3 separate regions of the Homo sapiens genome follow, and all the other regions are reported to be linked to region 2. The links are microRNA targets in miRTarBase. Many come from high-throughput screens and were not tested one by one. Region 2 holds a microRNA gene; each other region holds the end of a gene's coding sequence.

Region 1 (10,484 bases), not on the chromosome of region 2:
CCCCATCACCCTTTCCGGGGCTGGTTCTTCACCTACCACTTCCAACGTGGCTGTTCAAGAATCTCATCCATTTTGGGCTCATTTTGGCTCCTCGGAGATGGGTCCTAAATCTAGAGCTCCAGTCCCAACCTTTCTCTTAAGCTCCTGGCTCACATTTCCAGCAATCTGCTGAACATTTCCATGTGGGTGCTTGTCAGCTCCTTAAAGATAGCCCCTCTATCAACAATGTTTTTGTTTGTTCGTTTGTTTTTGAGTCAGAGTCTTGCTCTGTCGGCTGGAGTGCAGTGGTGCAATCTCGGTTCACTGCAACCTCTGCCTCCCAGGCTCAAGTGATTCTCCTGCCTCAGCCTCCTGAGTAGCTGGGAGTACAGGCACATGCCACCATGCCCAGCTAATTTTTGTATTTTCAGTAGAGCCAGGGTTTCACCATTTCGGCCAGGCTGGTCTCGAACTCCTGGCCTCAGGTGATCCACCCACCTTGGCCTCCCAAAGTGCTGGGATTACAGGCGTGAGCAACCACGGCTGGCCAACAATGGATTTTTAAATTATTTCCACGCTCACAAAAAACCTTTCCAAGATGACGGGTTGATGGGTGCAGCAAACCACCATGGCACATGTATACCTATGTAACAAACCTGCACGTTCTGCACATGTATCCCAGAACTTAAAGTATAATAATAATAATAATAATAATAATAATAATAATAATAAAAATCAAGCAAACAAAAAGGCCGTCACGACTTGCCTATTTCTGTTAATGGTGCCACTGTTTTCCTGACCTCTTAAATTTGAAATTTCAGAGCTGTCTGATCGTTGCCTTCACTTCACCCCCATCCCCCTCTCCCGTCTCCCGAAGTCCAGCTTGTGGTTTGCAATGTCCGTAAAACCTCGCCTTTCTTCCACATTCCCAGAAGCCTCCACCCTAGTTCAAACTACCCAAGACACACAGGGGCTCCCAGCGTGATCTGTCTCAACCCCTCCCATTTGCCCTTTGATAAAAAGCCCTCACTGACTCCTCCTGGCCTACAGGTAGGGGTGATACTCAAAATACTTAATCTCTAATCCTTTCTAAACTTAGCCCTTTCGTTGCTGAAGCCAGTCCAGGGGTCCTGGAATAGGGATGGGGGAGCACTTGGGCTCAGGGCAGTAGCTCCGGAAGTATTTTAAGCTTAGCATCAGCCCTGTCTTCAGGACAAAGCCCCAAGTCCTTGGCCTGCCATCAAGACCCTTCACCTTTGGGTCTTAACTGACTTCCCCAGTCAACTCACCCTGCTCCTTCTGCCACCACTCATACCCCAAGGCACTGCTCCAGTCAAACTGATGGATTTGCTGGCCTGTGAACATGCCTCTGTTTACAATTTCCAAACTCTGTGCTTTTGCTCTTATTATCTACTACATATATTCTAAGCATTTTAAACCTGGAAACCAAGATCCTCCATTTATCTTTTACCTGCTCTAGGCAATACAGACAAACTCAACATTATTTACACACTCCTGTGTTTTCTTAATGAATATTCTTCCCTTCTATGTATCTTTTCCTTTAGAAATACAATCCATTGGCCATGCGCGGTGGCTCATGCCTGTAATCCGAGCACTTTGTGAGGCCGAGGCAGGCAGATCACGAGGTCAAGAGATCGAGATCATCCTGGCCAACATGGTGAAACCCCGTCTCCACTAAAAATACAAAAATTAGCTGGGCATGGTGGTGTGTGCCTGTAGTCCCAGCTACTCGGGAGGCTGAGGCAGGAGAAACACTTCAACCCGGGAGGCAGAGGTTGCAATGAGCCGAGATCGCGCCACTGCACTCCAGCCTGGCGACAGAGTGAGACTCCATCTTGAAAAAAAAAAAAAAAAAAAAAAGAAACGAAAAGGAAAGAAAGAAAATCCATCCACAGCCAGGCACAGTGGCTCACGCCTGTGATCCCAGCACTTTGGGAAGCTGAGGTGGGCGGATCACCTGAGGTCAGGAGTTGGAGACCAACATGGCCAATATGGCGAAACCCCATCTCTACTAAAAATACAAAAATTAACCGGGCTTGGTGGCACGCACCTATAATCCCAGCTACTGGGGAGGCTGAGGCAGAGAATCCCTTGAACCTGGAGGTGGAATTTGCAGTGAGTCGAGATTGTACCTGGGTGATCAAAGCAAGACTGTCTCAAAAAAAAAAAAAAAAAAAAAGAAAAGAAAAAAAGTACAATCCATCCTTCAAGATCTGATTGGTTCCACTCAATCAGAATGTCCTTCCTATCCTGCTAGTACCAATTAAATTGTGTCCCTCCTTCAAGACTCGATTCATGGACTCTGCCTCCCCAGACCAGTCTGTCCTAAGTGAGTTATTTAAAACTTATTGCAATTGCCACTCTTTCAGCAACTGATCATGAACACCCTGTGACATCTATTATAATGCAAACTGTTACTTAAATCTTCAATGACCTGTACCTATTTAGTGTCCCCAATTAGCACATTACCTCCTTGAGGAGTGGGAGGGACTGTATCAACCACGTAACATGGCACAGTACAAAGGATCAAGGTAATGGTTACTGATGGAGCCGGTGGGAGATGGGGACCAAACTTTGAGGTAGGTGACCTCTGACCTCCCCTCTGCACAGGCACTCACCCCAGGTGCTCCACTGCTCTGGGCCTGCCCTCCCTGGCTCAGTGCCCTCATGGTATCCCCAACCCCACCCCCCCATCTTAGCACTCAAAATTTGTTACTATTTTGAACATCCTCTACCCCTAAAGCAACTTCCCTGTCCAGTTTCTTTCCTACTCCAAGTGTGAAACTAGCTAAACCAATTAACCTGTGCTGATACAGTTATGGGAGAGGGCTAGAGGAGAACCTCAGGAGACAGGTTCATTTTAACCAGAGTCATGTGGCAGTAAGTCTCTGCCTTTTCTTGGTTTAATGGAGTCAGGAGTCAAGAGATGACCCTCATCTCCCAGCAGCTGATATGTTACTCCCTCCTCTGGGTTCCCACAGCACTTTGTTTTCTTTATTTTTTTGAGATAGAGTCTCCCTCCGTTGCCCAGGCTGGAGCGCAGTGGTGCGATCTTGGGTCACTGCAGCCTCTGCCTCCCGAGTTCAAGCGGTTCTCCTGCCTCAGCCTCCCAAGTAGCTGTGACTACAGCTGCGTGCCACCACGCCCGGCTAATTTTTGTATTTTTAGTAGAGAACGGGTTTCACCATGTTAGCCAGGCTGGTCTCGAACTCTTGACCTCAAGTGATCCGCCCACCTCAGCCTCCCAAGGTGCTGGGATTACAGCCCTGAGCCACCTCACAGCACTTTGTAAATACCTCTTATGGTAGCACTTAGCACAGTACAGTTCTTTAATTACGTGTTTATGTAGGGTTCCCCGCCAATAGGCTGTGAGCTCCTCAAGGACAGGGACTGTGTGTTAGTCACTGATATATCCCTAGTGCCTAGCACACAGTAGGTTCTTAATAAATGCTTATTGAAAGAAGGAACTGGTCCTGATTTTAATTCTGAGACTTCTGCCCTATGCTATGGCAGGCAAGAGGAGAGGGAGGAGGACAATCCACACTTGGGAGCTAAGGCAGCTTTCTGCCCGCTCCTATAACACTGCAGGCGGCTACTTCCTTTGCCCCTGGAGTGTTAACAGACATCCCCGGATCACAGGGTCCATGAGGAGCCCAGGGCTGCTTGCCAGCTGTGCGTTGCTGTCACCAGGTGCCACGTGCAACTCCCGAACTCCCGCCCTTTGCTGCTGCCCGCTTCCAGGGACTGCCTCGCCACTATTTCCTCACCCCTGGGTGGGGCTGTGCGGTGGAAGTGTCAGCTCCGGTGGGTGGGGCGGGACAAGAAGTTATTCTGACGGTCACAGGCCTTTCTGATCCCATCTTGTACTCCAAAAGAGGCAGTTGCCTCCAGCTCTGAAGCCGCTGGACCTGGGGTGAGTGAGCTCCTTCCCCTCCCAGACTGAGGTCCCAGCCTCCGAGAACTTCGGGCCCCGGCGCGCCGGACGTGGAGGCCGACGTCCAGCAGGTGGCGCTGTCGAGCCAGCGATGGCGGGAGAGTGGCCCGGCGGGGCCCGGGAAGGGAGGGGCAGCCAGGGTTGGGCCTACCGTCCCTGGCGGAGGCGGCCGCGGCCGCGGCTGGCGTCTTCCGGTCCCCCGATCTTGCCCCTGCGCCTGCAACTGTCCCCGGATGGTTCTGGCCGCCACCAAAGCCCTCCGCTGCTCCGGAGCTTCGAACTTTCCCCTCGACCCCAGCCCCCTTCACTTTCCAGGGGGAATTTAGCCGGCCGCCGAATGCGCTCCCCCATTGGCCAGCCGCGCTCTGGCCCCGCCCCCGGCGCCCCCTCCCTCAGCCTCGCGGACCAGCAGGTGAGCACGCGGAGTCGCAGTCACCCGGCCTGCCCTCCCCTCCCCTCGCGCGCCGCCGCCTTCTACCGTGAAGCGGGAGAGCGATCGAGGCGCCCCAGACAGCCGTTTGCTAGCGGAGGGACCTGACCGTCCGCCGCACGAGCCCGGCTCCCAAGGACCGGCGCGGGGCCTAAAGACGTCGCCCCCAGAGGCCGGACGCTGCGGCTCGGCCGACCCCCGCGCGGTGGCAGCCGGAGCGCTAGGGAAACGAGTGGAGCCCCGGCCCGGATCCTGCTGCGGGATCCAGAAGGCCCGAGCACTTCGCGTCCCCCTGCCCAGCAGTTGAGCAGACGCCCCTGGGGCGGACCCCACCCTTCCCAAACACACACACACTGGTCTTTGCATGGGCAGGACACAGTTAAACACCCACCAGGCCTCCCGGTTATTGGGTTAGAGTATGGACCGAGCAGGAGTTTACTGCCCCATTCACCACCGCCCCCAACCCCACCTACCCCAAATAGGGATGCGGAGACTATCCCTCCTCCCACCAAGACTTGAACAGAGCCTCTCTTTCAAGCCCAAAGAGCGTTCTGATAAGACCCTCATTAACCATAGGTTCGTGAGCTCGGCATGAAGGAGGAACTAATTTTGGCTAAACAGATCTTTATGGTCCTCAGTGTGATGCTCTGTCAGTAGGTGGGTACATTGGCCTCCATTTGGCTGATGGAGCAATTAAGGCTGGGAAAGATTAGGTTCTCGCCCAAGGTCAGCCTAGGTAGTTAGGAGTGGTGCTGGCTCTTTCCTCTACACCATACTAAAAGGACTGGGAGATCATTTAATAAGAGGCCACCAAGCCATCCTCACCCCAATCCTGACCGGGGATGTAGATTTAATGCCACGGCCCATACTTCCTGCCTTGATCTTTCCAACCTGGCAGAAGGGCAGTGGGACTCCAGGTAAGCCGTGGGCAAAGAACCCCAAAAGCAATAAAACAATCTGCTGTTTGGTTTTGCTTTTAACTCCCCTTGTATCCAAGCCTTTGCTCAGATTGTCCTCTCAGTTCAAACACTCTTCCCTGCCACCTCTAATTCCTGCATTTCTACTTTTTAAAGTATCAACTAGGCATCACCTCTTCTAGGATGTGTTCCCAGGGCCCTTGCCCATGCTTCTGAGCTCCCATAGCATCCTGGGACTAGTTGAATTCTTATACTCACCACATGGCTTTATAACCTATCAACATGTCAGATTTCTTGACTTAACTGCAAGTTCCAAGCACAGGATCGACCTGAATTCAGAACCACTGTGGGCTTGTTTGGGAATCTGACAAAGGTGGCTATTGCATAGGGCCTTGGGATCAGAAAGTGGGGAGAGGACGGCCAATGAGGAAGATTAATGCTATGGTTCAAAGAGGATGATGCTTGGACCTGGGTCGAGCCAAGCTTCTGAGGCTTGAGCAAAGACAGCAGCTTAGAGTTCACTCCTGAGGACGGCTGGACTCCAGCCAGCCAGACGCACAGATCCCTTCGCCTCTACACTCTCTAACAGGGCTCTCCAGACTCGAAAGCCACAGTGAGAAGCCCTAAGAGAATAGAGCTTCAAAGGGCCTCATCCCAGGCCTCTCGAACATCCTCTTCCTCTCAGTCACTGGTGCATTCTGGAACCAGCAATCACAAGAATCATAGCTTCTACCACTGTTTTTCAGAAGTGGGAGGAAAAACTGCAAAATCCAGGATGGGCATCTTGCCTTCATGGTAGCTCGGTGGCAGGAAAACAGAACCATGGAAGGCCTGCACCGTGGGTGGGGAGCACTGGCACAACAGTGAGGGCAGTGATGAGGCCATGCAGCCAGATGCCACCTCGGCAGGGTGGCCTAGGGCAAGCAGGGGACTTCCTTAAGGAGGCTTATTCCCACAGCCACCACAGAGAAGGCTACTTCCTCCAACCCTGCTACTCCTATGTAAACAAGGACTGCCCAGGCACCTGCTTCAACCCCAAACCAAAGCAACAGGAGCCAGATGCTCCATTTGCCCCCACTGGCCCCGCCCCCAGGATTTGCCCCTTTCTTTTTCTTTCCAGATCGTGACCCAATGTTCACTAGCCACTCCACCTTGCCTTTATTCATCGTACCCCTTGGGACCCACAGCTGCAAAGCAGGATGGCGGGGGCTCCCCATTTACTGAATCACAATGCCCACCTTCTGAAACCACCAAAAAGTCCCAAAGGGGAGGAGAGAAAAAGAGAGACGGGAGAGAAAAAGAGAGACGGGAGACAGAAGCCCTGACACAGGTTTTTCAGTATGCAAGTGTTTTTGACTCCACAGCCAGTTGCTTAAAATGAAACATAAAGGGCAGCCAGAATATACACCCAAATGCGAAAAAAGGAAAGGCAAACAGAACATGAAATAAACTACACAATACCAGGAACCCCAACAAAACCAACAAATTAAAGTCCAAAACCCCTCAACTTTATATATATATATGTATATATATATGTATTTTTTTTTCTTAAAAAGGGAAAACAACTGTTCAAAACCAACTGGGCAGTATGGTGGGGGTGGGGAGCAGTCCTACAGAAGGGGGCCGAGAACTTCCCCCCCAGGAACAAAGAACAAACACAATACAAAGAAAATAACCACCAATGCTCCCGCATGGCTCAGGAGCCTCTAGAGAACAGATTGTCCCATCCTCAAACTGGCTTTTTTTTTTTCCTTTTTTTTTTAATCTTTTTTTTTTCCATTTTCTTTTTTGTTGTTGTTGTTTTAGCACCTGTACAATAAAACTGTACCATCTCCAACCAGAGCCGGCCACGGCGAGGCCCTCCTGCCTTTGGATGGTACATACTCTACAAGGATTGTTCGGAAAAATAGCAATTGGTAGAAAAATAAGAGTGGGAGGGACAATGCCACAGAGGGGGCGGGGACAGGGAAGCAACCCAAGCTCCTCTCTCTCTCTCACTCGACAAACCCAGCGCTGGAGGCCCAGAGGCCAGGGGGAGGCCAGGTAGGGATACCACTCAGCCCCAGGCCCCCAGGCATGAGTGGAGCAAGGGCTGGAGACCACTTTCCTGCCCTTGCCTAGGAAACAGCTGACGCCTGGATTTCACATCCGGCAGTGAGTCCCAGAGCCCTCTGCAGATTCCCAAGGAGAATGAGGGGCTGAGGGAGGAGGTGGGAGGAGAGGAAGGAAAGGGGTGCTGTGAGTCTCAGAAGGGGCAGGGATGGGGGTGGCTGAGGGCTGGGAGGTGAGAGGCTCAGTATCTTGAGACAGGGAGGCCAGAACGGGGTGGGAGAGTGGAGGCAGGAACAAACTCGTATTGTGCACTCTGAGGGGGGCAGTGAAGAAGGCGTGAGGAGGGGGGCCACCCTCACCCCTCAGATCCCTTCTCCACGCTCCTTTATTAGAGTAACTTATTAACCCCTCACCTCACAATCCTCCCCTCCCTGTCAACACTAATCTCAAGATAGCGGGGCTGCTGCAAAGGGCGGGAATGGGTGGGTGGGGGAGCACCAAAGCCTCAGGATTTACCCCCAAGCCCCCAGCCCTGGGCCAGCAGCAACCAGCTTCGTTAGTCACAAGTCCATGTTCCCCCACCCCATTCCACCTCACCCCCTCCCCAGTGGGGGAAAAAAACACCAGGGAATAGCTTTGTCAGAGCTCATCAACAAAGAAAAAGAAAAGGAGGTACAGAAAGTCCCTCAATACAACAAGTTGTCTCAAATCGTCACAGTGATACAGACTTATCAGAAACCAATGAAACAATACAAATTAAATACTAATAAAATAAATACTACAGAAGACAGAAGAACACAGGGGAATGGAGTTGGGGGGCGCTCAGAGATCTGGGATTTTCTCATTTCTCCTCGGGACAGGCCAAGGCCATCCAGGGCCCAGGTTTGGTCTTGGTCATGAACAAGGAGGCCAGTCCAAGGGACCCCGGCGCCACCTCCCACCACCCCCGGGACCTCTTGTCCTCAGACATGGAGTTCAACTTTCCACCCCCATCAGCAACCACGATAACAATGACGACGACAGGGAGATGAGAACTAATTGTAACCAAAAAAACAAAAACAGTCCAGTCGCTAATGCTGGCATTGATAAGGCGGCTTCTTGTTGGTCCGTATTATTGCCTCATTCTGCAGTCTGGTGCTCGGTCGGGGAAAGACAAGGAGGTGGGGGAAGGGCGAACTCGGAAGGAGAAAGAAGAGGAGGGGCTGTTTTCCCGGTCAACTGTTGCAAGACTGGAATTCCACCTCGGACCCTAGGAGCCGAAGTAGGTCTGGCTCGTACCGCACCAGCTCCACAGTCTCAGAGGAGCCTGGGGGGGATCTGTCGTCCAAGCCTCCAGGCCTCTCGGCAGGGGTCAGCAGCTGACTGGAGGCCACCTGCCTGTAGAACTCGGCCTTGGGCATGGTGGTGATTTCAAAGTGCGGGAACCGGGCCTGAAAGATCCTCGAGGAAAGCTTCAGCCTCTTCAAGACATCGGAAAAGAGGAACCAGTTGCAGGGCCTGCAAAGGCAAGGATGGGAGTTATTGAAGGAGGCTGGAGGAAGCGGTGGGGGCACCGACCCAGAACACTCTGCAAAGCCCACAAAGGCTGCACGACCATCAATGTCTCCCATTATAACTCACTGCCAGTCTGGCTCCCCCGTCCCCTGCTAAACCACAGGCTCCTTGGGTATAGCTGAGGCAAATGTCTTCTCCTGTCCCCTGCAATGCCTGGCCCGGCTTTCAGCTAAATGGTGAGCACGCAATCAGTGACCACCTCTTCCAAAATAACACAAACAGGAGGCAAAGGGGCATTCTAGAACCTAAAACTCTTAGCAGGCTTCTTGGGGACTTAGCCTGCGCCCCTGTGACCTGGCATTTGCCATCTGCTGGGACCAGTCTTTCCTCCGACTCCCGCCCCTGCCAACCCTGGCTGCCTTCCCTTCTCCTGTTCTTACTCTTGCTTCCCTGGCCTCCTTGCTCTCCAAGATCTTCCCCAGCAGAGGGGGAGCCGTGGAGAAAGGCCTAAACTGCGGGTAATCCAAAAGGCATTTCTCTTTGGCTCTGGAATGCATTAGACAAGTTTTTTCTCCAGCAGCAGCACCATCGTTTCTGCAGGGCCAGAGCTCACATTACAGAAAGTGGAGTCTGACTTTGCTGAGCACACCCGACTGGGTGGCAGCCTGGGGACAGCTGGGAGGGGTGCTGGAGAGGCCGATCCCGGGCCAAACGCTTACATTGACTAATGCGGGAAGAAACGCTGCCTCCCCACATTAGTGGTCCCAGTTCACAGGGTTTTCCCTCCTCACTATTCCACTACCCCAGCTCCAGCCTTTGCCACTTCTGGCCTGGGCTCTGTCTTGTCAGCCTCCTAACCGGTTTCCCTTTGCCAAGAGTCACTCTTCTGCACCCCCACCCACCCTCACTGGATCTTCTGTTACCATTACAGTTTTCTTTTCTTTTTTTTCTTTTTCCAAGACGGAGTCTCTAGGCTGGAGTGCAGTGGCGCAATCTCGGCTCACTGCAACCTCCACCTCCCAGGTTCAAGCAATTCTCCTGTCTCAGCCTCCTGAGTAGCTGGGATTACAGGCACCCACGACCACGCCTGGCTAATTTTTGTATTTTAGTAGAGATGGGGTTTCACCATGTTGGCCAGGTTGGTCTCAAACTCCTGACGTCAAATGATCCACCCGCCTCAGCCTCCCAAAGCGCTGGGATTACAGGTGTGAGCCACCATGCCCGGCCACTAGCATGATATTATATGAGACCTTCTAACCTCTTCAGCCCAATGTCCACCCAGTCTCTCTCTTTCTCTGTCTCTCTCTCACACACACACACACCCCACATTGTATCCCCCACCCTACCAAGCACCAGCCACATGATAAAGGACTCCCCCTACTTTCTGAACTTGTATGTTTCAGTGCCTTGCTCCATCCTTCTCTCCTTCCAGGCCCAGCTCAGGTAGATACTGTATCACCTGTGAAACCTTCCCCCGGTGTAACTCATTGTTCTTCCATCTCCCATGGTCTCGTGGCATTTGATTCACATCCCTATTGTAATACTACTAACAAAACCCATTTCTGAAAGGGTTGCAAAAGAACCTTAAACTGTGGTTCACTCTGCAGCATAGCAATGGGGGCTCAGGGTGGACTGGAACTTTTTGCATTTGACACCC
Region 2 (10,484 bases):
GAACCAGCTGCCCGGCCTGCTGGGAGGCGTGGGCCCCATGCACTCGGTTGTCCAGCTCTGTGAGTGTCTAGGTTTGGAAGCCCTCGAAACTGCTTTTACCCTTGGGCAACCTAGAAGCTGCCATTGGGAATAAGAGGAGGAGGTGGGGGCAGGGCAGCCTCGGGTGTCTCTGAGCGCTCCTTCCCCCTAGTCCAAGGGTTCCGGGACCTGCTGTGGCTGCCCATTGAGCAGTACAGGAAGGATGGCCGCCTCATGCGGGGGCTGCAGCGAGGGGCTGCCTCCTTTGGCTCATCCACAGCCTCTGCCGCCCTGGAACTCAGCAACCGGTTGGTACAGGCTATCCAGGTGAGTGGGTGCCCTGTATCTGGGCTGTGCAGGACAGAGCAGCTGGAGCCCTCTGCACCACAGCTCCCTGGTTCTGTCCTCAAAGCTCCTCAGAGTGGGCAGTCTGGGTATGACAGCCCTACTTTATAGAGAAACAGCCACGGAGAGGCTAAGTGACTTGCCTGGGACCTCCAAGCCAGGTCTCCCGAGGCCCACAGGGGCTCCCATGCAGGAGCGGGAGTGCCCCCCAGGCCTTCAGAGCCCACTGTGTCTCCTGCTCATGGCATGTCTTGTAAAGGGGGGTGGAGGACGGCTGTGTTTGCAGACTAAGAATCTGAGGCGCAGAGGCTGCCCTGGTTCATTCAGGCCATACGCTTCGCTAGGCCAGAAGGACCCCAGGGAAGCTGGGGAGCCAGTCTCGTGGGCAGTTGTCAGATGAATTCTGTAGGGGATCGATGGTCCTAGGCGGCTAAGGGGTGAGTGCAGGTGCATGGTGCATTCTGGAACCTGCAAGCTCAGACCCCAACAGGACAGAGGGCAGGGCTCCAGGGGAGGTGGGAGGGATGCATGGGCACCAGGGAGCCCCCGGGAGTGTTCAGTCAGGTGGGAAAGAGTGATGCCAGGTGAGATGCTGGGCAGAGGATCTGGCAGACAGAAGGAAGGATGGGCCTCTGACCATCTGGCAGGGGCGTCTGGGGGGCCAGGCAAGGAGCGGTCAGTCTCAGGCGTGCAGCTGCGGCAGCCATGTGGAACCTGCTGAATGTGGTGGTCAGCAGGAAGAGAGGTTTGGGTTGAGAAGACTTTAGGAAAGTCCCCTGAGGAGTCCCACGTTCCTAGGTTCCCTCAGCAGAGTGGCAGGTGCCTAGGAAGGGGAGGAAGAGTGGGAGGAAGTGGGGAGTGAGGCTGAGCAGGACCCCCTAGGCCAGCACAGTGACAGGCAGGGAGGCTGAGGGCTGGTGGGGTCTCAGACTGTCCTGGGGGCCTGGGGCTGACGTGTGCCCCAGCCAGCTGTCCTCATCCAGTGCTCCCATGTCCCCCAGGCCACAGCTGAGACCGTGTATGACATCCTGTCCCCGGCAGCCCCCGTCTCCCGCTCCCTGCAGGATAAGCGCTCTGCGCGGAGGCTGCGCAGGGGCCAGCAGCCTGCCGACCTGCGGGAGGGTGTGGCCAAGGCCTACGACACAGTGCGAGAGGTGACCAGGCCCCCGCCCTGCCCCAGTCCCCCATGCCCATCTCCTCACACAGACCCCGCCCTGACCTCTGGCTTCCACAGGGCATCTTGGATACAGCTCAGACCATCTGTGACGTGGCATCGCGGGGCCATGAGCAGAAGGGGCTGACGGGCGCCGTGGGGGGCGTGATCCGCCAGCTGCCCCCGACTGTGGTGAAGCCGCTCATCCTGGCCACGGAGGCCACGTCCAGCCTGCTCGGGGGCATGCGCAACCAGATTGTCCCCGACGCCCACAAGGACCACGCCCTCAAGTGGCGCTCGGACAGTGCCCAAGACTGAGCCTGGGGTGCCCGGCACCCAGAGGGTGCTGCCCACCATGCTCCTGAGCCTCCCAAGAGCTGCAGCCCACGGGCCCGGCCCGGCCTGGCCCTTCAGGGGATGGCCACTGTGAAGGACGCCTTCCCAGCCTGCCCGTTGCCAATCTGCTGTGAGAGGGGGGCCTCCCTGCCTTGGGGCCTTAGCCCTGGCTCTGCACTTTTCCTCCGGGGAGAAAGGACACTGCCCCTCCCCCGACCTGGGCCCACACTGCTGCCTTCTCCCAGGACGGAGGCTTTTGGACCCTCGGACCCCATCCCACTCAGCCAAGTGTCTTTCTGTGTCTGGGGGGAGGAGGGGATGATATCCGTGTGGTTCGATGTATTATTTTTAAGCTCCGTGAGTGCGTGGGTCAGTGTCTGCATGAAGTGGAATAAACTGCCCACCGCCAGCCCCCCTCTCAGATCCTCTGTCCCTGTGAACCCTGGCCTCAGCCTTGACCTTGGCCCCGCCCCAGATCCCACCTCTGCACCCAGCACCTCCCATGTCACCACCAGGGGTCGCCATGCCTCCTGGCCTTGCCCAGCAGATCAGGGCACAGGGGGACCCAGAGGCACCCAGCCCTGCACGCCTTCCCCTGGCTCTGGGCTCTGCCTTGCCCCTCCCAGGAGGCTGCCACTCCAGCCCCACTCCTGATGTGGCAGGAGCTACGTGGGGCTGCCAGGGGAGGGAGGGATGGTCCTTGGAGCCCAGCTGACCCTGCCTGGTTGTCACTTGAGGCCACTCGGGGAAGGCTGAGCCTGAGGCATTCTAGATGTTGCTCTCACCATCCCTAGTGGGGGCTTTTGGGGTGGCCCAGGCCTTGGCCCCTTGGTTTCCACTCTGATCTGGGGTCCCAGCTCCAGCACTTGGAGGGGGGAGGGGTGCTGGAGCAGCGCTGCAGCCGGAATCCCAACCCTCACTGCACAAAGCTTTACACAGGACCAGGGAGCGCCCATTGCCCCCCACACATCTTGTTTCTTGTGAGCTGCTCCCATCGCGCTCCTCCCTGCCCTGCTTCCCAGTGGCGCTGCACAGAGGTGGGTGGGTCCATGGGGAAACCAAGGCTCGGGTTGGGAATCAGGGAACCCTCACCTTGCTAGGTTCCGCAGGCCTCTGGGGTTAGCAAAGGTCCCCCAGCCCTGCTCTGTGGCCCCTTCTGAGTGGGGGAGATCTGGGTACTGGGAACAGAGCAGAAGCTTTGTCCCGAGGGACCCTGGGGTCCTGGCTGCCCACGGACAGCTGGGGCAGCAGGCTGGTAAGAGACCAGGAGGGCGAGGCCCTGGAGGAGACAGGGCTGTGGAGACTCGGTGCTGATGCCACCCGGAGAGGCAGATGGGGCCCAGCCTGATGCTTCCTGGACCCGCCCCACCCTGCCCGGGCACAGTCCAGGGCTTCCTGCCCTTCGAACCGCACTTGTGATCAGTATTGACGGTGGTGGGATAATCATTAACCACCACCAGGGGCTGGGTCAACGGCTCAAAAGGCCCTGGGCCCAGGGTGTCCCCACTTCCTCCTTGTGCCCCGAAGGCCAGCCCGGCACTCAGGTAAGAGGCTTCCTGAGTGGTAGGACCCCTGCCGCCCTCCCTGTCCTAGGAGGCTCCTGAACCCAGGCACCTCTCTGAAGGGTGGCCAATCCTGAGGAAGAAAGGGACCTGGACAGCCATGGGGTGGCCGGGACGAGCCCCTTCCTCTCTGTGCCTTGGTTTCCACTGTGGGATAAGGGGGCCTTAGCATCAGCGCTCAGAGCTGTGGAGCCAGGATTCCTGATCGGGCGCTGTCTCTGCCAGGCCAGGGCACTTGGACACCACGCTGCAGGAGGCTGGTCTCGCCCAGGCCTCTGTGGGAAGGGCCGCCAGGCTGAGTGGAGGGCCAGCCACCAGCTACGGTGTCTTCCTTCGCAGGTCTGTCCCCCCAGGCAGAAGGATTCCAGCCCAGGGATCCCCCATCCCACCCTGACTGCATCCTGAGAAGGGGGGACGCCACTTCGGGAAGGTTGTTGGGGCAGCACAGGCCCTGGGGCCCTGCTCTGTGACCTTGGGCGGCCCCCTCTGTCTCTCTAGGCCTGTATGCACCACTGGCAAAGGGGGCAGGGCCCAAGTCTACTCTAAAAGCTCCCCTTTCTCTCCAGAAGCTTTGGAGTCTCCCAAAATGCCTGCTGGGTCTCTGCAGGACTGGCACCTGTCACCGGAACCTGTCTGGGAGGGACGAGAACACGCTTTGCAAGAGGAAGCTCTGCCTCACAGAGCCCTGGGCTCACTCAGGGACCCTGGCCAGCAGCTGCTTCCTCTCCCCACAGCGGAGAGAGACCCAAGGGTCCCAGGGCGGATGCTTCCCACCAGGCCAGCCCAGCGTGCAGGGTGGCCTCGTAAGTCCTGATTGACATATGGACAGTGGTTCAGAGAGGTTACGCTACTTGCTCAAGGTCACCCAGCTCCCAGGCCCCTGCTGTCTTCCAGGCCACTGAGGTCCTAAGCGTCCTTCCAGGCGAGCCACTGCTCACAGCCTGTTCCTCATGTTCTGCGGCAGGTTTGTGTATCTACATCTTTTCCAGTTCCCTGTCGTCCCCCTTCCTACACCTCGTCATCCACTATCCCTGTTTGTTTTCTCTGTTCCTTTCTAGTTCTCTACCTGCTCCTCTTATTTTTATTTGAGACAGGGTCTTTCTTTGTCACTGAGGCTGGAGTGCAGTGGCACAATCCCAGCTCACTGGAGCCTCGACCTCCCAGGCTCAAGTGATCCCCCGCCTCAGCCTCTTGAGTAGCTGGGACCACAGGCATGCATCACCACACCAGGCTAATTTTTTATTTTTTGTAGAGATGGGGTCTCACTGTGTTGCCCAGGCTGGTCTTGCACTCCTGGGCTCAAGAGATCCTCCCACCTTGGTCTCCCAAAGTGCTGGGATGCCAGGTGTGCACCGCCATCCTCGGCCTTACTCTTCTCTTCCTCTCTCAGCCCCTCTGCCTCACTATCCCTCTTTCTGTGCCCTCCCCCACACAGCCCCCCACACTTCTTCTTAGTCTCATCTTCAGCTTCCCATACGAGGCCATCCTCATGAAATCAGGCACTGGGAGGTCCCTGGGGACTGACAAGTGCCAGCTGTCCCTTGCTGTCTCTCTGCCCCATGGCTGCAGCAGGGAGGGTGGGCAAAGGGCAGAGGTGACAGTGGCCAAACCTGAAACTGAGGCCCAGCTCTGGTTGGGAAAGAAACAAGGAAACAAAATAACTTGGGGACAGAGGGCGTGGGGTCATCAGAGCGGGCAAAGGCTGCCCAGGAGTTGTAAATCCGAGCCGCTCCCGGCTTTATGAGGCCGATTTGGGGTTGAGCCTGGACTTTGCCCAGGAAGGAGTGCTGGCAGCACACGGGGCGCCAGGTGTGGGCCCCGGATGATAAGAAGCCTCGGTGAAAAGACCATGGACCTGGGGCCACGAAGACTGGGGAGCCCAGGTGAGTGGGCATGGGACACTCTCCAGAGCCCTGCCGAAGGCGGACGCCAGGCAGGGCCCCGGTCTCCAATTGGTTCCCGCCCCCTGTAACAGCAACTCCATGTGGAAGTGCCCACTGGTTCCAGTGGGGCTGCTGTTATCTGGGGCGAGGGCCAGTACCCACGAAGAAGGAGAGGCAGGTGCTGGCCAGCAGACCAGCCAGGACTACCGTGGCGACGCTCCCAGGCCAGATGGTGGCGGGTAGTGGAGGGCTGTCGGTGGGCTGCCGAGACCGAGTGCACAGGGCTCTGACCTATGAATTGACAGCCAGTGCTCTCGTCTCCCCTCTGGCTGCCAATTCCATAGGTCACAGGTATGTTCGCCTCAATGCCAGCCACCAGGACCTGCAGGGATAGGGGAGGGCCGGGGGTGTCCAGCAGTCAGCAGAGATCCTGCGACCCCAGTGCAGCACTCATGGTCCCACCTCCCTCTGTCTCATTCCCCGTGAATGAGCCTGAACAGCTTCAGTCCTGCCCCTGCCCTGCCTGCCCTGTGGCACCTCTATGCTTTGCCCATGCTGTTCCCTTGGGCTGCAATACTCTTCCTAGCTTATTTGCCAGGCTCACTCTTACTAACCCTTTCAAGCTCTGTCCAAGCATTTGCTGCCTCCAGAAGGCCTTATTGAAGCTTCTAAGTCCCCACCTGGGCACCCCCACACAGTGCTGCCGCAGAGCACTGCCCTCTCGGAGCCCCGGTGCTGGTTTCTGCTTATGTCTCGCTCCTCTCCCCATCTGTGAGCTCAGTTCCCAGCCCAGGCGCGTGCCCAATAAATGTTTGCTGAACCAATCCTGAGCCTCTGTCTTGCACCCTGAGGAAGCACCCACCGACATGCAGTGTGGCCAAGGGGGGCTGAGTGCTCTAGGCCCAGTGTTTGTGCTGGAGCCCCCCCACCCAGGATGGGGCCCTGAGCCAGCCTCCCCATCTGCTTCCTACTCTCCCCTCCTTTGCCAGTCTCATCTCCCTGGAGCACAGCCCTGTGGTTGGTGGAGCAGCTTCTCCAGCCCCTAGGATTCCTAAGAGGGCCCAGGACCCCAGCTGCTGGTAGAGGAAGAGCAGCCAACCCAGGACAGGACAGCTGACCCCACCCCTGTCCCGCCTCCCACAACAGCCTCATTTCCACCTATTTCTTTGTGGTGTTTGTTTGTTTGTTTTGAGACAGAGTCTTGCTCTGTTGCCCAGGCTGGAATGCAACAGGCTTCCTCCCAGGAGGAAGCCTCCCCTCCTGGCATGATCTCAGCTCACTGCAACCTCTGCCTCCTGGGTTCAAGCGATTCTCCTGCCTCAGCCTCCCAAATAGCTGAGATTACAGGCATGCACCACCATGCCCAGCTAATTTTTGTGTTTTTAGTAGAGACTGGGTTTCACCATGTTGGCCAGGCTGGTCTCGAACTCCTGACCTCAGATAATCTGCCCACCTCGGCCTCCCAGAGTGCCGGGATTATAGGTGTGAGCCACCGCGCCCAGCCCCACCTGTTTCTTATACAACGGGGTTCTGAGGAAATTTTCCTTTTTTTTTTTTTTTTTTTTTGAGACAGGGTCTTGCTCGCTTTGTCACCCAGGCTGGAGCGCAGTGGTACAATCACAGCTTGCTGCAGCCTCCACCTGCCAGGGCTCACACAGTCCTCCCATCTCAGCCTCCCAAATAGCTGTGACTACAGGCACGTGCCACCATGCCTGGTTAATTTTTGTATTTTTCGTAGAGATGGGGTTTCACCATGTTGCCCAGGCTGGTCTCAAATTCCTGGCCTCAAGCAGTCCTGCCTCAGCCCCCCAAACTGCTGGGATTACAGGCATGAGCCACTGTGCCCTGTCAGAATTTTTCATTTGAATAAAAAGGTTTCTGGTACTACAAAATAAAATTTGTAAAATGGGAAATAGAGACCTAGGAATAAATGTCAAATTGCTTAATAACAGGCGTTGGCTATTGAGCCCTTTCTGTCTGCTGGGCACGCACATCCAGGACCTGGTCCTCCTGGCATCCATCATGAACCTGTTTGGGACAGGAGGACACAGGCTCAGAGAGGGTGCACATTTGCTGAAGTCACAGAGCAAGTTGGACCTTCTCCTGGGGACTGTAGGCAGCCAACAAACATCTGGCCCCTAAGACACTGTCTCTCTCCCCTTCCCACAGGCAGCTCTGCTCACACTGTCCTGGCTGCTCTGAATCCCTGGGCCCCGATTGGCCCCTGCCGTGGCCCAGCTCAGCAACCCCTCCCTGCAGACCATCCCATGACTCTGCAGGCGCTGCTCCCCTCTCTGCCCACACCCCGGCTTCGTGGGCCTCTCCCGCCACCCTTATCTCATTCCCTACAGAGTTAAGGAGCCCTGTGTGCTTATCTAATCCTGTGCTAGTTTCAGACTCCTTGAGGGCAAGGTCCATGACTTACTCATCCTCCCTGGCTGCTTCCCCCACCCACCAGCATAGTAGGTGTTCAGGATACATGGGCTGGATGGTAGGGCCCTGGACTCTAACCCTCTTGGGGCTGTCAGGCCTCAGACTCAGAGCACTGGCATAGGGTGAAAGGGGAGCAGACAGCAGCCACCCTGCCCTGGGGGTCCTCCTGCATCTGCCTCTGCAGAGCACTGCGATCCCACAAAGGCCTGCGAGGGCTATTGGAGACCTGTTCCAATGCATGAGCAAGGCGGATCCAGCACCCTCCCCCAGCTCCTTGAGCCCACTGACCTGTGTCCTTTACCCAGCAGGCCCTGGGCCCATGCACATTTCCCTGGCCTGGGTCTCACCTCCAACCCCTCTCAGAACTCCTCAAGACCTGCCCAAGGGTCACTCCCTCGCGGACACCTGCCTGGCCCCCCGCCCCGCCCCCCATTACCCCACTCACTGGCTCCCTGGATGCTCTGTGGCTGGGATGTTAGCGCCCCCATCATGCCCCATCACCCACACCGGGCTATTTCCCCCACCAGCCTGAAAGCCCCCAGGAGTGGCGGCCACTGACTTTTTTCCTGTAGCCTCAGACTCAAAGGAGGCACTTAATAAATGCACACAGAAGGACTGACCTTGTGCATGAGCAAAGTTGCTTAGGGAGGGAGCCTAGACACAGTGGGGCGGTCAGCACAGAGCTGGCGGTGGGAGGCCTCAGTAGTATTGTCTTTGTCCCATCGTCCACACCACACGTGTGTGAAACGCTACGCTGACAGAGGCCCTGAGAGGTTGTGCAGATTGACCGTACGCCAGCCTCAGAGAGAGAAGGCCCAGGCGGGGAGGAGTAAAGCCTCCCTGGGAGAGGTGAGTGTGAGGTCGGCGTTTGCTGAGGTGAACCCCAGAAACAGGTCGTGATCACTGGAGGAGGAAGGAATGCCAGGGGCAAAGATGCAGAAACCGGACGGAGGCGCGGGGCGGGCGGGGACAGCTTCCTCTTCTGCAAGGCTTACTCCCGGTGGCCACCACTAGGGGGCGCCCCGGGCACCCCTCCCAAGCGGGGCGGGGCCAACCCTCCCCACCGCGCGGCTCCCAAGGCCTGGGGGAGCAGCCCCTGGGTTCGCCTTCCCCGGGCCGCCTAGAACTGCGCCTGGCCTGGCCAGGACACTGTCCTGGGCCTAGGGCACAGCCCAGGTGCCAGCGTCCTACACACAGTTGCGGGTCCCAGGCGCGCACTGCCTTACCCAAGGTGGCCCTGGTGGGGCTCTTCCCGCTGTGGTGTGTATAAAACATCACTGTATAATGTATATTCATAGAATTCACAATGAGTCCCCATGTAACAACCTGCAGAGCCCCCAAATATGCCCTTCCAGGTCCCCCCCGCCCATGGTCAGCACAGTTCTGAGTGTTAAGGTAATCACTTCCTCTCCTTTCTCTGGGATTTACTACCCCGTACACTTTCCCAAACAGTCTGCGAGCATTTTGTCTGGCTTTCTTGTTATTAATGTAAATGGAATCACGGTGCCGTGTCTGGCTGAGTCTCATGCAGTTGATGGAGCCGAAGCTTCTTCACTCTTGTTCACTGCTGTATAGTGAAGAGAACACTTGGGGTTATTATGAGCGCTGTTATTATGAGCACTGTTGGGATTATAATGAGTATTGTAATGCACAGATTCTACTGCAGGGTGCTTCTCCAGCAGGGGCTGTCAGGTCATGGAGTGGTGGACCTAACACTGGACCAGGCCACATGGTGTGCCTAATAAAGGACAGCTGGGTACAGGCCTTTTTTTGATTTTGTTTTTCTTTTTTTTTTTGAGACGGAGTCTCATTCTGTTGCCCAGGAATGCAGTGGCTTGATCTCAGCTCACTGCAAGCTCTGCCTCCCGGGTTCAAACGATTCTCCCGCCTCAGCCTCCCGAGTAGCGGGGATTACAGGCACCCACCACCATGCCCAGCTAATTTTTGTATTTTAGTAGAGATGGGGTTTCACCATGTTGGCCAGGCTGGTCTTGAGCTCCTAATCCCAGGGGATCTGCCCACCTCGGCCTCTCAAAGTTCTGAGATTACAGGCGTGAGCCACCGTGCCCGGCTGTCTTTCTGTTTTTCTTTTTGACAATGATGACAGCTTCAGAAAAGTTGCAAGAAAAGTACGAACAACATCCATATACTGTTTATTTTGATTCATTGACAGTTAACACTTTGCAATTATATATATATACACATATTTATATATATACATATATATACACATATTTATATATATACATATATATACACATATTTATATATATACATATATATACACATATTTATATATATATACATATATATATATACACATATTTATATATATATACATATATATACACATATTTATATATATATATACATATATATACATATTTATATATATATATATACACATATATATATATTTTTTGAGACGGAGTTTCTCTCTTATTGCCCAGGCTGGAGTGCAATAGCGCTCACTGCAACCTCCGCCTCCCAGGTTCAAGCAATTCTCCTGCCTCAGCCTCCCGAGTAGCTGGGATTACAGGCATGCGCCACCACACCTGGCTAATTTTTGTATTTTTAGTAGAGACGGGGTTTCTCCATGTTGGTCAGGGTGTTCTCGAACTCCCGACCTCAGGTGATCTGCCCGCCTCGGCCTCCCAAAGTGCTGGGATTACAGGCATGAGCCACCATACCCGGCCTGCAATAATATTTGCTCCCTTTTCTCTCTCTCTCTCTGTCTGGCACCCACATACACAC
Region 3 (10,484 bases), not on the chromosome of region 2:
TCAAATATTTGTTCTATAATGTGTGTTATTTCTCGAGCTCCACTGAGATTGGGGGAAGAGGTTGGCGCTTAGCCTATAGCACTCATCCTAAATTTTTCTGATTTGCTACCCTGTAAAGTTAAGACACATGCCAAAAAGAAAAAAAGGCTGGAAAGTGACCAGGAAGAGAAAAGTAGTGAGGGTATGGAAGACCTAGGTTCATGTAGTTACATTGAGCCAAAAAAAAAAATGAACTTTGAACTAAGATAATAATTTTGGGCCCGGGTTGGTGGCTCAAGCCTATAATCCCAGCACTTTGGGAGGCCAAGGCAGCTGGGTCACTTGAGGCCAGTAGTTTGAGACATGGTGAAATACCATTTGTACTAAAAATACAAAAAATTAGCCAGGCGTGGTGGCACGTGCCTGTAATCCCAGCTATTCGGGAGGCTGAGGCAAGAGAATTGCTGGAGCCCAGGTGGCCGAGGTTGCAGTGAGTCGAGATCCTACCACTGCACTCCAGCCTGGGCAACAGAGGGAAATTCTGTCTAAAAGAAAAAAGAAAAGATTAAAAATTTGTGTATGATTATCAAAGGGTATATGGGCCCAACTTTCAAATGTGTTAAAGGTACTGAAAAGGGGATATTTCAAGAGTACCCACAATGAGTCAAAGTTCCATCCATTTATTTAATGGTGGGTGGGAGTTGTGTTCTTTTTTTTTTTTTTTTTTTTTTTTACAACCATTGGTGTGGCTTCTGTGTTAATTCCATCAGTGCGCCCTCTCTCTTTCCATGCCAGGGTACTGAGAAGTCATTTTGGATGCATTATAAATTGAGACTGTTAGAGATTGGCTTTGGTGCTAGTGCCATCTTTTATTTCCTTTCAGGAAATCTATCCTCCAAAGTTGCACCAGTTTGCGTATGTGACAGATGGAGCTTGTTCAGGAGATGAAATTCTCACCATGGAATTAATGATTATGAAGGTGGGTTCCAGTGAATTTTCCGGCCATTTTTTAAATGCGTACGGCAGATCTTTTCCACCTGAAGTGTGAGTGCCTCTGGGAGGTGTTCTCCAGCTGGACACATTGTGGCATGGAACATGGCTGCATTTTGAACTTCTTTTCTCAATCATCGGTCTCTTTTCTCTCTGTTTTCCTTTAGGCCCTTAAGTGGCGTTTAAGTCCCCTGACTATTGTGTCCTGGCTGAATGTATACATGCAGGTTGCATATCTAAATGACTTACATGAAGTGCTACTGCCGCAGTATCCCCAGCAAATCTTTATACAGATTGCAGAGGTAAGTGGCTCCATCACGTCCGTGGGGCCACCTTCCCTGCAGCTGGAGTGAGGAACTCTAGAATAGGCGTGTGGTGGCATCCATCTCAGCGTTCTTTTCTTCTCCGTAGCTGTTGGATCTCTGTGTCCTGGATGTTGACTGCCTTGAATTTCCTTATGGTATACTTGCTGCTTCGGCCTTGTATCATTTCTCGTCATCTGAATTGATGCAAAAGGTTTCAGGTAAGTTGGCTTTCCAGTGCATGCACAAACAAGGTGTACTAAGCTTACATCCAGTTGTCAGCCTCAGATTAAGCCCACGATGTCTTCACTGCAGGGTATCAGTGGTGCGACATAGAGAACTGTGTCAAGTGGATGGTTCCATTTGCCATGGTTATAAGGGAGACGGGGAGCTCAAAACTGAAGCACTTCAGGGGCGTCGCTGATGAAGATGCACACAACATACAGACCCACAGAGACAGCTTGGATTTGCTGGTCAGTGCTGCTCCTTCTTTCAGTCCTTCTTGGCCAAATTCTTAAAACTGCCTAAATAGGCCAGCCGCGGTGGTTCAGGCCTGTAAACCCAGCACTTTGGGAGGCCGAGGTGGGCCGATCACTTGAGGCCAGGAGTTCAAGACCAGCCTGGCCAACATGGTGAAACCTTGTCTCTACTAAAAATAAAAAAATTAGCCGGCTATGGTGGTGGGCACCTGTAGTCCCAGCTACTCGAGAGGCTAAGGCAGGAGAATCATCTGAACCCGGGAGGCGGAGGTTGCAGTGCGTTGAGATCACGCCACTGCACTCCAGCCTGGGCAACAGAGCGAAACTATGTCTCAAAAAAAAAAAAACTGCCTAAATAACCTGTTCACTTTTCTTCAGGCAGGCCCCAAATATCCTTGAAAAACTCCAATTTTAATTAATTGAAAAAGAAAAATCCTGGCAAATTGATGCTGTATCTCACTATCATATAGACTATAGAGTTTTAAAGTGCTCTTTGATATTTTTTTTTCTTTCACTCACCTCCGTAGAAAAAGACATAGTGGCCAGACACAGTGGCTTTTGGAGGCCAAGGCAGAAGGACTGCTTAAGCTCAGAAGTTTGAGACTAGCCTGGACAACATAGGGAGACCCTGTCCCTAAAAAATTTAAAAACTAGCCAGGCATGGTGGCACATGTCTGTAGTCCCAGCACTTTGGGAGGCGGAGGCGGGCAGATCGCCTGATATCAGGAGTTCAAGACTAGCCAGGCCAAAATGGCGAAACCCTGTCTCTATGAAAAATACAAAAATTAGCTGGACATGGTGGCGGGTGCCTATAATCTCAGCTACTCTACTTGGGAGGCTGAGGCGGGAGAATCGGTTGAACCCTGGAAGTGGAAGTTGCAGTAAGCCGAGATCCCACCACTGTACTACAGTCTGGATGAGAAAGCAAGTCTCCATCTTGAGAAAAAAAAAAAATTTAAAAATTAAAAAAGAAAAAGCCTATGGTAATTGAAGCCCAAGGATATGTTCTACTCTAATGTGTTGTCCCTTTTATTCTTACCAACAGGACAAAGCCCGAGCAAAGAAAGCCATGTTGTCTGAACAAAATAGGGCTTCTCCTCTCCCCAGTGGGCTCCTCACCCCGCCACAGAGCGGTAAGAAGCAGAGCAGCGGGCCGGAAATGGCGTGACCACCCCATCCTTCTCCACCAAAGACAGTTGCGCGCCTGCTCCACGTTCTCTTCTGTCTGTTGCAGCGGAGGCGTGCGTTTGCTTTTACAGATATCTGAATGGAAGAGTGTTTCTTCCACAACAGAAGTATTTCTGTGGATGGCATCAAACAGGGCAAAGTGTTTTTTATTGAATGCTTATAGGTTTTTTTTAAATAAGTGGGTCAAGTACACCAGCCACCTCCAGACACCAGTGCGTGCTCCCGATGCTGCTATGGAAGGTGCTACTTGACCTAAGGGACTCCCACAACAACAAAAGCTTGAAGCTGTGGAGGGCCACGGTGGCGTGGCTCTCCTCGCAGGTGTTCTGGGCTCCGTTGTACCAAGTGGAGCAGGTGGTTGCGGGCAAGCGTTGTGCAGAGCCCATAGCCAGCTGGGCAGGGGGCTGCCCTCTCCACATTATCAGTTGACAGTGTACAATGCCTTTGATGAACTGTTTTGTAAGTGCTGCTATATCTATCCATTTTTTAATAAAGATAATACTGTTTTTGAGACAGCTGGTTTTATGAGCTATGTCTGGTAACTTAAGGTAGCAGTCAGCTTTAATTGTGGTTATATCAACTTCTGTTTTTTGACTTCATACTTCTTGAGGCTCAAGTCTTTCTTTTTTTTTTTTTTTTTTTTTTTTTTTTTTGAGACAGGGACAGGGTCTCGCTCTGTCACCAAGGCTGGAGTGCAGGGGCACAATCTTGGCTCACTGCAGCCTCTGCCTCCCGGGTTTAAGCGATTCTCCTGCCTCAGCCTCCTAAGTAGCTGGGACTACAGGCGTGTGCCACCACACCCAGCTAATTTTTGTATTTTTAGTGGAGATGGGGTTTTGCCATGTTGGCCAGGCTGGTCTCAAACTCCTGACCTCAGGTGATCTGCCCATCTCAGCCTTCCAAAGTGCTGGGATTACAGGTGTGAGCCACCACACCCAGCCTTGAGTCTTAACTCTTTTGGTCAAATACATTTTTCAATGTATTTGATGGAAAGGAAACTTTAGACGTGGGCTTCAGGTGCAGCCTGTCTGCCTCCTGGTGCCCCCTGAGCTGGAAGTGAGGAGTCCACCTGGTATTTGTCTCACCACGCCCTGCACTGGTGGCTGCTCACACCAGGTTTGTTGGCCATCAGTAGTAGTAGTGATGAGGTAATGTCCACACCGAAGAGGATTCCTAGGTGTAACTTCCTTCCTAGGACTGGTTAAAGGCCATAAGGAATCTGGAATTAGCATGATTTAATGCTTTTTTTTTTTTCCCCTTACCGAAATCTTAGCCTAAAGAATAAGTGAATTTTTATTTGGAGAACTTTTAACATAGTAGCCTAAAACTGCTTTTAAGAAGAAAATGAGGCTGGGTGCGGTGGCTCATGCCTGTAATCCTAGCACTTTGGGAGGCCAAGGTGGGCGGATCACAAGGTCAGGAAATCGAGACCATCCTGGCTAACAGTGAAACTCCGTCTCTACTAAAAATAGAAAAATTAGCCAGGCATGGTGGCGGGCACCTGTAGTCCCAGCTACCTAGGAGGCTGAGGCAGGAGAATGGCATGAACCCAGGAGGCGGAGCTTGCAGTGTGCTGAGATCGCGCCACCACTCCAGCCTGGGCAACAGAGCGAGACTGTCTCAAAAAAAAAAAAAAGGAAAAGAAGAAAATGTGGCTGGGCGTGTGGCTCACGCTTGTAATCCTAGCACTTTGGGAGGCTGAGTTGGGCAGATCACTTGAGGTCAGGAGTTGGAGACCAGCCTACCCAACATGGTGAAACCCCATCTGTAGTAAAAATGCAAAAATTAAGGCTGGGCATGGTGGTTCACGCCTGTAATCCCAGCACTTTGGGACCCAAGGCAGGCAGATCACCTGAGGTTGGGAATTCAAGACCAGCCTGACCAACATGGAAAAACCCCATCTCTACTAAAAATACAAAATTAGCTGGGTGTAGTGGCACATGTTTATAATCCCAGCTACTCGGGAGGCTGAGGCAGGAGAATCCCTTGAACCCGGGAGGCAGAGGTTGCAGTGAGCCGAGATTGCACCACTGCACTCCAGCCTGGGCAACAAGAGCAAAACTCCATCTCAAAAAAAAAGAAAAGAAAAGAAAATTAGCCAGGCGTGGTGGCACACATCTGTAATCCCAGCTAGTGGGGTGGCTGAGGCAGGAGAATCACTTGAACCAGGAGGCAGCAGTTGCAGTGAGCCGAGATCGTGCCACTGCACTCCAGCCTGGGTGACGGAGTGAGACTCTATCTCATAAAAAAAAAAAAAAAAAAAAAAAGTCAGGGCGCAGTGGCTCACGCCTGTAATCCCAGCACTTTGGGAGGCCGAGGTGGGCGGATCACCTGAGGTTGGGAGTACAAAACAAGCCTGACCAACATGGAGAAACCCCATTTCTACTAAAAATACAAAAAAAAAAAAAAAAATTAGCCAGGTGTGGTGGCACATGCTTATAATCCTAGCTACTCGTGAGGCTGAGGCAGGAGAATCGCTTGAATCTGGGAGGCGGAGGTTGCGGTGAGCTGAGATCGCATCATTGCACTCCAGTCTGGGCAACAAGAGCAAAACTCCATCTCAAAAAAAAAAAAAAAAATGCGAAGTAGAGTCATATGTCAGCTGAGCGCATGATGCAGCCTGTTCGCTGAGCACTGATGGAGTCACCAAGTGCCTTGCTAATCATTGCTGCCCACTTACAGGCCTCGTGTACAGCTCATGTGACCTTTGTTTTTGTACTTTTAGTAGAGACGGCGGTTCACCATGTTGGCCAGGCTGGTCTCGAACTCCTGACCTCGTGATCTGCCCACCTCAGCCTCCCAAAGTGTTGGGATTACAGGCGTGAGCCACCACGTCTGGCCGCTCACATGATTTTTTTTTTTTTTTTTTTTTTTTTTGAGAGGGAGTCTCGCTCTGTCACCTAGGCTGGAGTGCAGTGGCACAATCTTGGCTCACCGCAACCTCCACCTTCCCCCTGTTCAAGATTCTCCCACCTAAGTCTCCCAAGTAGCTGAGATTACAGGTGCCCGCCACCACACCCGGCTGATTTTTGTATTTTTAGTAGAGATGGGGTTTCATCATGTTGGCCAGGCTGGTCTTGAACTCCTGACCTCAGGTGATCTGCCTGCCTCGGCCTCCCAAAGTGCTGGGATTGCAGGCGTGAGCCACCGCATCCGGCCACTCACATGACTTTTTACTGAACATTCTTCAAATGGTGGTCTTTTGGAGTCTTGTGTTTGACTAACAGTGCTTCATCACGTGTGCTAGTGCATACAAGGAAGGGTGAATGAACAAATAAATACTGCTTATTTTCAACTTGGTATTTTATCTCATTTGGCAAAAATCTAAAGAAAAAAGCAGCCATTTGAAATTCGTAACCATACGCAGTGAGCCAAGATGGCACCATGGCAGTACAGTCTGGGCGACAGAGCAAGATTCCATCTCAAAAAGAATAAAATAAAATCTGTAACCATATTTGTATGAAGTTGGAGAGACTTTACTTTTGACATTGATGTAGTTCTGGCAGATTTTTTTTTTTTTTTTTTTTTTTGAGACGGAGTCTCGCTCTGTTGCCAGGCTGAAGTGCAGTGGCACAATCTCGGCTCACTGCAACCTCCACCTACCAAGTTCAAGGCATTCTCCAGCCTCAGCCTCCTGAGTAGGTGGGACTACAGGCAGGCGCCACCACACCCAGCTGATTTTGTATTTTTAGTAGAGACGGGGTTTCTCCATGTTGGCCAGGCTGGTCTCGAACTCCTGACCTCAGGTGATCCTCCCTCCTCGGCCTCCCAAAGTGATGGGATTACAGGCATGAGCAATTGCGCCGGCTTTTCTGGCAAGTTTTATTTATTTATTTATTTATTTTTATTTTATTTTATTTTTTTGAGATGGAGTCTCACTTTGTCACCCAGGTTGGAGGGCAATGGCGCGATCTCAGCTCACTGTAACTTCTGCCTCCTGGGTTCAAGCAATTCTCCTGCCTCAGCCTCCTGAGTAGCTGGGACTACAGGCGCGTACCACCACACCCGGCTAATTTTTGTATTTTTAGTAAAGACGGGGTTTCACCATGTTGGCCAGGCTGGTCTCGAACTCCTGACCTTGTGATCCGCCCGCCTCAGCCTCCCAAAGTGCTGGGATTACAGGTGTGAGCCACCGCACCCGGCCCTCTGGCAAGTTTTAATACTACAGTTATCCTAATAAACGCATTGTAAATCTACATGTAATGGTATTTAGTCAAATGATAGGACTAGCCAGTTATTTCTTCACTTTAGGCAGAGATGTTCTAGTCTTAAAAAGCAGTGAGTTTTTGGCTGGGCGTGGTGGCTCACACCTGTAATCCCCACACTTTGGGAGGCTGAGTTGGGCAGATCACTTAAAGCCAGGAGCTTGAGACAAGCCTTATCTGCAACCTTTGCTTCCCAGGTTCAAGTGATTATCCTGCCTCAGCCTCCTGAGAAGCTGGGATTACAGGCACCTGCCCATGCCCGGCTAATTTTTTTTTGTATTTTTAGTAGAGACGGGGTTTCACCATGTTGGCCAGGCTGGTCTCGAACTCCAGACCTTGGGTAATCCACCTACCTCAGCCTCCCAGAGTGCTGGGATTACAGGCGTAAGCCACCTTGCCCGGCCTACATTTAGCATTTTCTTTTTTTTTTTTTTTTTTGGAGATGGAGTCTCACTCTGTCACCCAGGCTGGAGTGCAGTGGCATGATCTCGGCTCACTGCAACCTCCGCCTCCCAGGTTCAAGCGATTCTCCTGCCTTAGCCTCCCGAGTAGCTGAGACTACAGGCACCCACCACCACGCCCTGCTGATTTTTGTAGTTTTAGTAGAGAGGGGGTTTCACCATGTTGGCCAGGCTGGTCTCGAACTCCTGACCTCAGGTGATCCACCTGCCTTGGCCTCCCAAAGTGCTGGGATTACAGGTGTGAGCCAGTGTGCCCGGCCTACATTTGGCATTTTGTAAGCAAAAAGATGGCACTAAAAAATTTCTATTTCCAAAGTTTCATAAATTTGAGAGCTTGACACATTGAGGTAACAGCAAATTTGAAAGTACGTTTGAGGCTAGGCACAATGGCTGAGGCCTGTAATCCCAGCATTTAGGGAGATTCGAGGTGGGAGGATCACTTGAAGTCAGGAGATCAAGACCAGCTTGGCCAACATGGTGAAACCTCATTTCTACTAAAGTACAAAAAATTAGCCAGGTGTCGTGCTGGGCGCCTGCAGTCCCAGCTACTCAGGAGGCTGAGGCAGGAGAATCGCTTGAACCCAGTAGGCAGACGTTGTGGTGAGCTGAGATCATGCCACTGCACTCCAGCCTGGGTGACACCTAAAAAAAAACAAACACATTTGAGGTAAATATTAATTCATAGGTCATTTAGCCACCCACCGTATTAGAGAGGGTGCTAGAATATGCTGAAATAAGAATGCCTTATATGTAACTTGTTGGAATGCTGTGTTTCTGGAAGTCAAAGCTTTTTAAGTGGCAGTGTTGTCACAGGCAGCTCTTAATTATTGGTGCTAATAAAGGCTAAGTCCTGAATGGGTAAATGACATCCATATTAATCAATCATGTCTATACTCAGGAACCCTAAGAGCTGCTAGTAAGTAGAAATCAAAATTCCCCTGTAAGAGGAGCTTTTTCCACTTGCTAGTAATCCCTGCTTTGGCCTCTCTCTCATTGGCTGCAAATACCCCTTGACCAAGTCGCTTATGTTCTGCTATTCAGCTAAAGCCAGATGAGGCCACAAGAGACACTGGGGTGAAAATGGCAGCTCAGTCAACTTGGGTGAACAGATGTCCTGAGGAGATGTGTTAGCAAGAAGGACCAGAGAAAGGAGGTGATGTGGCCCCTGATCTAACTCTCGGGTTAGAGATGGAGAAAAAGCGAGTGATTCACCAACCCTGGAGACCCTGAACTGTGGTTGAGCAGACCATATCCTCATATCCCGCCTCAGCTCACAGAATTCACTTGCGGCCAGGCACAGTGGCTTATGCCTCTAGTCCCAGCACTTTGGGAGGCCAAGGTGGGCAGATTGCCTGAGCTCAGGAGTTCAAGACCGGCCTGGGCAATATGGCAAAACTCCATCTCTACAAAAAATTTAAAAATTTAAATTTTTTTGTGGTGGCGCATGCCTGTAGTACCAGCTACCCAGGAGGCTGAGATGGGAGAATCACCTGAGCCTGGGAGGCCGAGGCTGCAGTGAGCCATGACTGTGCCACTGCACTCCAGCCTAAGCGTCAGAGTGAGACCCTGTCTCCCAAAAAAGAATTCACTTGCTAGAGTCCGCCAGAGTTGTTGTCATTTCTCTGCCCACTGTGCCTGACGACAACAACAACAAAAAAACCCTGGTCCTCAGGTGGTGGGAGTCAAGGGTTTTCCAATGCCGTCTTCCCTGTGTGGAACACGGACAGCTTACTCTTTCATGATGGTTATTTGGTACCATGTGATAAATACATGATGCAGAGGTTCACACTGACTTTTAGTTTCTAAGGCAGGTAGAGCCATGGAGCCCTTTAAGATTCAGAGCATGGCACCCAATACGTGTCCATCCTCTAACTCAGACACAAACGAGATTGGAGTTTATTTGGGCAAAATTAGGCTCTAGCTCTGAGCAGGGCTAGAGAGAGAAATCAAATCTGATAATGTCTAGTCATATTTACCCAACCGTGCATTTTCCTACCACATGTTCCACATTTTGAAATTCAAATCACATTTATACCTTGGACATTGTTAGAAGACTATTTTTATCCCTGCTGTAATCATCTAATTTGCTGATTACAGGTCTCAAATTGCCACAGAGAACTCAATTTTTGAAAGAATTGTCCTGTTTGATCAAATATGTTATTCAAGCAATGCAGTCATTTGTTCCACAAGTTTACCTGCCAGGTAGAGTTAACCAGGAGTAATAGCATTAGAAGCCTATACTTAAAATCAAGCATTAGCTAATCCGCCTGCGACAATAGAGTCTTAAATATAATTTGCTGCAGATACTTCAGTTCCTGCACCGACAGACAATTGCAGTCTGTATCCAATGAGCACAGATTTTTTCCTACCTCGTCCCAATTCCAAATTTAACTTCAGAAGACTCTAATGTACTCAGTTGCATAGGCTTACCAGGTACTCTTTCCTGGGAGCCTCACATGGGAGGGCAACACTATCCTTTATTCAATAAACAGCATCCCCCACCTTTTAAATCATTTTCCTGATCAATGCCAATTCCAAAAGTTGTGTGGTATCTGATTATGCAGTGCGGTTCAAGTCAAATGCTGGCTTCCTTGGGGTTGGTGAGTGAGGTGCCCTCGATGGAGTCCCTGCTAAGTGTACACTGCCAGTCCTGGAGACATGAACTCAAGGGAGCCTGGGAGACCGGGGAAGCCCTGGAGTCCCCGGAGGGCACTGGTATGAAATGAAAAGGTGGCACTCTAGGAGCAGAGCAGCAGCAGGACTCAAGCTCGGGAGGTGGGGCTGTGGAATGCTCTCCAGCAGTCACAAAAGCCCTCACAAATAGGGTAGAGGAAGGCCACATCACAAGGGGCTTTTGCCGTCAACTAAGATGGGTGTGGT

Evidence for each region. The annotated mature microRNA hsa-miR-192-5p reads CUGACCUAUGAAUUGACAGCC and lies in region 2 at 5,584-5,604, shown strand. An mRNA with a match to its seed (bases 2 to 7 or 8) in the 3' UTR can be bound and repressed. Matches are read on the target gene's strand: a 7mer-m8 pairs with bases 2 to 8, a 7mer-A1 pairs with bases 2 to 7 and ends in A, and an 8mer does both.
Region 1: the mRNA of BCORL1 is a reported target of hsa-miR-192-5p. The part of its 3' UTR that is shown has no 7-base or 8-base seed match.
Region 3: miRTarBase lists CCNE1 as a target of hsa-miR-192-5p. The part of its 3' UTR that is shown has no 7-base or 8-base seed match.

The regions. Positions count from the first base shown.
Region 1 is chrX:130,054,200-130,064,683 of GRCh38, reverse strand. BCORL1 (BCL6 corepressor like 1) reads right to left here. Exons shown (of 14, transcript NM_001379451.1): 14 at 6,613-8,830. The coding sequence ends at 8,548. It overlaps ELF4 (E74 like ETS transcription factor 4), which reads left to right. Exons shown (of 9, transcript NM_001421.4): 9 at 1-729. Among named protein-coding and RNA genes, the nearest start is that of ELF4, 51 kb to the left of the region's middle. RefSeq lists silencers at 3,786-3,855, 3,876-4,175, 4,196-4,455.
Region 2 is chr11:64,886,323-64,896,806 of GRCh38, reverse strand. MIR192 (microRNA 192) reads left to right here and starts at 5,561; the gene lies at 5,561-5,670. It overlaps ATG2A (autophagy related 2A), which reads left to right. Exons shown (of 41, transcript NM_015104.3): 38 at 1-59; 39 at 191-345; 40 at 1,365-1,517; 41 at 1,598-2,261. The coding sequence ends at 1,834. MIR194-2HG (MIR194-2 host gene) reads left to right here and starts at 3,358. Exons shown (of 3, transcript NR_133640.1): 1 at 3,358-3,396; 2 at 3,981-4,217; 3 at 7,467-8,349. MIR194-2 (microRNA 194-2) reads left to right here and starts at 5,368; the gene lies at 5,368-5,452. RefSeq lists a silencer at 8,652-9,011 and an enhancer at 8,845-9,415.
Region 3 is chr19:29,820,860-29,831,343 of GRCh38, forward strand. CCNE1 (cyclin E1) reads left to right here. Exons shown (of 12, transcript NM_001238.4): 8 at 863-958; 9 at 1,137-1,271; 10 at 1,381-1,492; 11 at 1,587-1,744; 12 at 2,796-3,453. The coding sequence ends at 2,918. Among named protein-coding and RNA genes, the nearest start is that of CCNE1, 14 kb to the left of the region's middle.